Regions from separate parts of the Homo sapiens genome. Here region 2 is linked to region 1. The links come from fine-mapping of genetic effects on gene expression. A gene starts in region 1. The other region holds a variant in brackets. All regions are shown on one strand. Distances are from middle to middle. Region 1 holds the start of CRYZL2P-SEC16B (CRYZL2P-SEC16B readthrough). Region 2 holds the start of SEC16B (SEC16 homolog B, endoplasmic reticulum export factor).

What was found. PIP is the estimated chance that this variant, and not a neighbour inherited with it, causes the effect.
Region 2: its variant is fine-mapped to the expression of CRYZL2P-SEC16B in tibial nerve (GTEx, PIP above 0.99). The same link has a PIP of 0.9 or more in atrial appendage.

Annotation. Positions count from the first base shown.
Region 1 is chr1:178,036,195-178,039,103 of GRCh38, reverse strand. It overlaps CRYZL2P-SEC16B (CRYZL2P-SEC16B readthrough), which reads left to right and starts at 1,128. Exons shown (of 32, transcript NM_001356506.2): 1 at 1,128-1,207; 2 at 1,303-1,410. It also overlaps the pseudogene CRYZL2P.
Region 2 is chr1:177,967,556-177,970,464 of GRCh38, reverse strand. It overlaps CRYZL2P-SEC16B (CRYZL2P-SEC16B readthrough), which reads left to right. Exons shown (of 32, transcript NM_001356506.2): 8 at 2,426-2,782. The coding sequence starts at 2,484. SEC16B (SEC16 homolog B, endoplasmic reticulum export factor) reads left to right here and starts at 407. Exons shown (of 26, transcript NM_033127.4): 1 at 407-581; 2 at 2,426-2,782. The coding sequence starts at 2,484. The variant C/T (reference allele first, on the strand shown) is at 1,163.

The sequences.
Region 1 (2,909 bases):
AGGTGTTCAAATGCTGACTTTAAAGCCTTCACCTAGGCAGGTGTGGTGGCTCACACTTGTAATCCTAGCACTTTGGAAGGCTGAGGCGGGCAGGGCGCTTGAGGCCAGGAGTTCGAGACCAGCCTGGGCAAAATGATGAAACCCGTCTTTAAAAAAATACAAAAATTAGCCAGATATGGTGGCGCACAACTATAGTACCAGCTACATGGGAGGCTGAGGCGGGAGGATGGTTTGACCCTAAGTGGCGGAGGTTGCAGTGAGCCGAAATAGTGCCACTACACTCCAGCCTGGGTGACAGAGAAGGACACTGTCTCAAAAATAAATACATAAATAAAGCCTTTACCTGTGCATTTAGGATTTTTTGCACTGGCAGAGGACCCAATAACCTTTATCTATGTATCATCTGTCTGTCTGTCTATCTATCTAATCGATAGAGAAGGTCTCACTCTGTCACTCAGGGTGGTGCGATCATAGTTCACCGCAGCCTCCAACTCCTGCACTCAAGCGACCCTCCCGCCTCAGCCTCCTGAGTAGCTGAGACCACAGACACTGGCCACCACCCGCCTTGGCCTCCAAAAGTGCTGGGATTACAGGCGTTAACCACCCAGCCAAGAACCACTATTTAAATGTCGCCAAGTGTGGTTTAAAAAGTTTCCCAATTTTGAGGGGGGCAAGGGTTGAAAAACTATTAGGTACTATGTTCAGCACCGAAGTGACGAGATGATTCGTACCCTGAACCTTAGCATCACACAATATACCCAGGTCACATCTGCACATGTAGCCCCTGAATCTAAAATAAAAGTTGAAACTACAAAAAAAAAAAGTCTCCCAAATTTGTTATAAAAATGCCAAAGAAGGTTAATCTCGGGTAATCGAATTCCGTTTCCTGGTGTTTTCCTTTATTCTTTTTTTCTTCCAGCCGGCTCCACCTCCAGAGAGGCCCAACAGGGAGCTCGCGCGGTCGTTTGGTCTCGGCGGCCGTAGAAGCCGGGCGCACTGGACCGGAGCTGCCCCGCCGGGGTTGGGTCGTGGCTGCCAGGGCGCGTCGCCAGGAGGCCTCGCGGGCCGCCCTTCCGCTCTCCCGGGGCTGGGCGGCGCTGTCCGGCTCTTCCTGCCGCGCTCTGGCCACTCCCCCTCGCCCCTCGCTGGGCTTGGCCTTGGCGGCCGTGCTCTGCAGGCAGTGCCTCCCTCGGGCGTGGGTCTGCAGGTGCAACCCCGACTCCTCCCTGAGCCCCGCAAGGCAGTCCCAGGGTGCTCCCGGCGGGGCTGCCCGACTGACCCTTCCCTTGTTTTGTGTTGCAGGAGAGCCGGACAGGGCAGCGGCCGGCACTACCGCGCTGCGATTTGCGCAGAGCTGAAGAAGCCCCTGACCATTGAAGAGGTGGCCCCCGCCCCGTCGGGCCTCACGAGGTAGGGGGCTGGCTTATCCCCTTCTACCCTCCCCTTCTCCCCGCCACCACACACTCCCCGCAGGCTTCCTTCTTGAATCAAGTTCCCAGTTCTGAAGCGAGGGGGCGACCGAGAGAGTGGAGGGCAACTTCGTCCTGGGATAGCTAGGGGGCTGAAGCCCTTTCCAAGGTCTAAAGTGCTAAAGGAAGATTGTTCCCCCAAAACACGCCTATAGGCCTCTTTCTCAATGCTCAGAGCTGTTGCCTTAGAAACAGAGAATTCTGATTTGCACACGACTTTGTATGTGCAAGTTATTGGTTTAACACAGGTACATGGACCTCATCCTTTGCTTCCTTCCACCTCAGTGCCGGAATCGAATTATTCGGCCTCTGCCTCCCTGAAACCAGCCCGGTAACCTCCGTGTTTCCATGTGAACATACGCCTCTGGTATATTGCAGACATTTGGGATGGGGTTCGTTTAGGGATGTGGGCAGCTGGTCCACTGAAATGTGGACATCATTTTGGCCTTGCCTATTGACCACTCTAGTAACACAGTGTCATCTGGTGTGGAGATGAGAACCTCAGACAGCGTGAAGCAGATAGTGGGCCTCAGTGTTGGAGACCTTCAGGGAGAGGGAGAAAGGCAGCCATAGCCCTGAAGTGTTACCAGCATGGAGCCTGTTAACTAACATGGCTAACACGGATTATTTGAATGAGCACATGATGGCAGCCAATCTACTTCCTGGGATTCACATGCTGAACGACATTCATCCTCAAATCATCCTTAAATCTAGGTGGAGTGGCTGGAGAACACATGTGTGCCCTGTGCATGCCTGTCAATAACTGATGTGTCCTGCATGGAATGTGTCCAGGCTGAGGGCTAGGCTCCTTTGTTCTGTTATTTGTCCTAGACATTGCATTGTAAGGAATTAGCCCATGAGAGCTGTGACTATGTTTGTTTTACTCACTACTAAATCCCTTAAGTCTAAAATGGTTCCTGGCATGTGGCAGAGGCTTAAAAAATTGTTGAATGAATGAATTTTGTAGATAAAAATTTCTTCTCACCAATATGGCCACCTCTGTACAAACAAATCAATATCATCCCTTTGGTGTCTCAGCTTTCATTTCTTCCAGTAATTCCAACCCCTGTTGGGATGTGTTGGTTTATGACAGTGGTTGTCTAGCACAGCGGTCCGCAACCTTTTTGGCACCAGTTCTGTGGAAGACAGTTTTTCCATGGACTGATGGGGGTTGGAGGGGATGGTTTTGGAATGAAACTGTTCCACCGCAGATCCTCAGGCATTAGATTCTCATAAGGAGTGCGCAACCTGGATCCCTTGCCTGTGTAGTTCACAATACGGTTCGCACTTCTGTGAGAATCTGATGCCGCCACTGATCTGACGGGAGGCAGAGCTGGGCGGTATGCTTGCTTTGTCTGCTCACCTCTTGCTGTGCAGCTGGATTCCTGACAGCATACCGGTCTGTGGCCCCGGGGTTGGGAACCCCTGGTCTTGAGGCTT
Region 2 (2,909 bases), 69 kb after region 1:
GCAGGGCATACTTACCTATATATCATGTGCTGCTTTACCAACATTTCAGCCCCGTAATGACCCTCATAAGCTAAGCATTGCCATTCCCATTTTAAAGAAAAAGAAACTGAAACTCGGAGAGGTTAAGTAACAGAACCAGCTAGTGGTAGAGCCCCGAGTTAACACCCCAAAGGTGGTGCTTTTCTCGCCAGACCAGGCTGCCTTGGGGCTTCTGGACTTCCTCTTCCTGATGTCTCTCTTCCGTGATTGCTGTGGGAATTTGGATGATTTCTCATGTGAGTGAACCTGGCTCAGCCCATGCTCAGGCAAACAGAAGCGCCAGTCTCTGACAGGGTTCTGAGCAAATTCGTCAAGTCAGGCGGGTCCTGGGCTGCGGTATCTGGGCTGTACTTTGCCCTAATGAATCAGCTCCATGGAGGTTGGGCAGTTGCAAAGGTAACTGACATGATGTAGATCTGAGGGCCTGGGGAGTCTTGGTAGATGTGGCACCTGGACTTTGACAGTCTCCAAGAGGAGAGGAGGCACTCTTGGGCCAGGTCCCTGGAGCAGCGCTGAAGGAAGGTGGGAAGCCATCAGAGCAGGTGTGTGGGAACACTCGCTCCCTTCTTTCCCCTCTTTGAGCTGGACGTGCTGTGCCGTCAGATTAGGAAAGGCAAGATTGCCTTTACTGGGGCTAGGAAAGGTCATCTACATGAATGTGTGAGTCTGATTTGTCATCATAGATGTAATTCCTTCATTTTGAGAATCGAAGGTGTTATTTATTTGGTGTCCTTAATCTGAGGACTGATTTGCTGGAGTTGATGTCTCTTGGCAGCAAAATGATGTGATTTCAGTGGAAAGATTGGGTGTTGCACCTTTGCAGTTGGGAAAGGGCTGCCTAATGAGACTATCTGGGGACAAGGAGAAAGCAGGTTTCTTCTCATTCTGCTTACTTGGTCCAAATGGTTTTGAGTTCCACCAGCCTTCAGAAAAGGCTCATGTGCCCTTCCCTGTGTCTGGGACATTTGGCCTTTCCTGGGATTTGCTGGCAAAGGCTGTCATTGCACCTGGCTTTTTCAAGGGAGTGAGATGATATGGGAAGGAAGCCAGAGGTTCCCCTGAGTTGTGAGTGACCTTGAGGTGGGAGGCCCCCTCCGCACCTTGTTCTTCTTGTGTGTTCTGC[C/T]GTCTCATAGCTCTTGGCTCATAGCTGTCGACCTCGGCTCCCTGGTGTTTGAGCAGAGTGACGTCTCAATTTCAACACCCACTCTTTTGACCTTTTGTTCTGATATGAATTTTTATATGAGGCTGGGACCTTCAGTAGTGGAAACAAGTTAACTGATTTGATCAGAATCTTGCAACCTAAAACAGTTCCTAAGGAAGAAAAAAATCGAGGCCGACCTAGCCTGTGGATGCTCCTGACACAAGGAATCCCTGAGCAAGAGTAAGATCTGAGGCGTGCTTTCCTTTTGTGGGTGCAACCCCTGTCCCCCGCTACCCCGTGCAATGGGCAGAGGAACCTGGAAGGTAATCAGTCCTTGGAGCAATTTCCCTTTTTCAGGATTACGTGGGGGAAAATTAGTTTGATGCTAGGGAGACTTTCAGCATTTAAAATCTCCAACCGGGAAGAATCCTGAGATATGGCCTTCTATTTTCTTATGAAAACAATCCCAAATTTGCCTCTTGTTGGCTCCTCTGGAGGAGGAGCAGGTATGACCATATTATATAGGTTCTAGTTCTTTGAGGGGGTTAATGTAAGGATTCAGAAAAGGTGCTTCTTGAAAAGGTCAGTCTAAATTTCTTTTTGTTTAATAAACATCTTCAGCCACTCATACTACCCTAATCTTTATCCTTGATAACACTGCTATTTATTGAGCATTTTAACATGTTAGGTAACATGTTACGCACTTCGCATAGGTTATCTTTAACTCTGTCAATAACCTTGCAAGGTAGTCCTTACAGTCTCCATTTCATGGGTAAGGAAATTGAGGCTTGAAAAAATGAACTAGCTAGTTAAGTGGCAGAGTTAGGATTTGAACTCTGATCTAGCTCTCTGCAAGACCCACTCTGTTTATGATACCACAGGGCCTCCGCTGTAAGTGTTAAATAAACACTTGCTGGGGGAATATGTGAAGAAACATCAACTGGGATTCCTTGATAGCATTTTTAGCTGTACCTATTATTGTTATCTGTCTCCCTTGCCTCCCTCATCTGTCGTTGTTCCACATGTACTTTTTAATTTTTTAAGCAATATTAATATAATTGTCTAGTCTGTTATTTGCTTCATGTATCTGAGATTGTTTCTCAGATTTCTCTGTATCCGTGACCATATGGTTTGTTTTAGATATATTTCGAGGACCATAGCTGCTCTTTTCACAAAACCTAATCAACCACTATGTTTGGATATAGGCTTCAAGTGATGATTTTTTCCTTTTTCTTTTGTCTGCAGGAAGATAAAATAACTGCACAACTTACTCAAAACCCAGGACAAATTCAGAGAGTCAAGGATGGAACTTTGGGCTCCCCAGAGGCTGCCCCAGACACGAGGGAAGGCCACAGCACCCTCAAAGGATCCAGACCGAGGGTTTCGGAGAGATGGACATCATCGGCCTGTCCCTCACTCTTGGCACAATGGAGAGAGGTTTCACCAATGGCAAGACAACCGTGGGAGCCCCCAGCCACAGCAGGAGCCCAGGGCAGACCATCAGCAGCAGCCCCATTATGCATCCAGGCCAGGGGACTGGCATCAGCCTGTGTCTGGAGTTGACTATTACGAAGGTGGTTATCGCAATCAGTTGTATTCAAGGTATGGCTTTAGGGCTTGGAATGAATGCAACTCTCCTAAATGCGTATGAATAGGTTGTTCTTTTCCTTCTTCCTTTTCCTTTTATTTTTCTCCCCCTTTTTTCTTTTTCCTTCTCTACCTTACTACG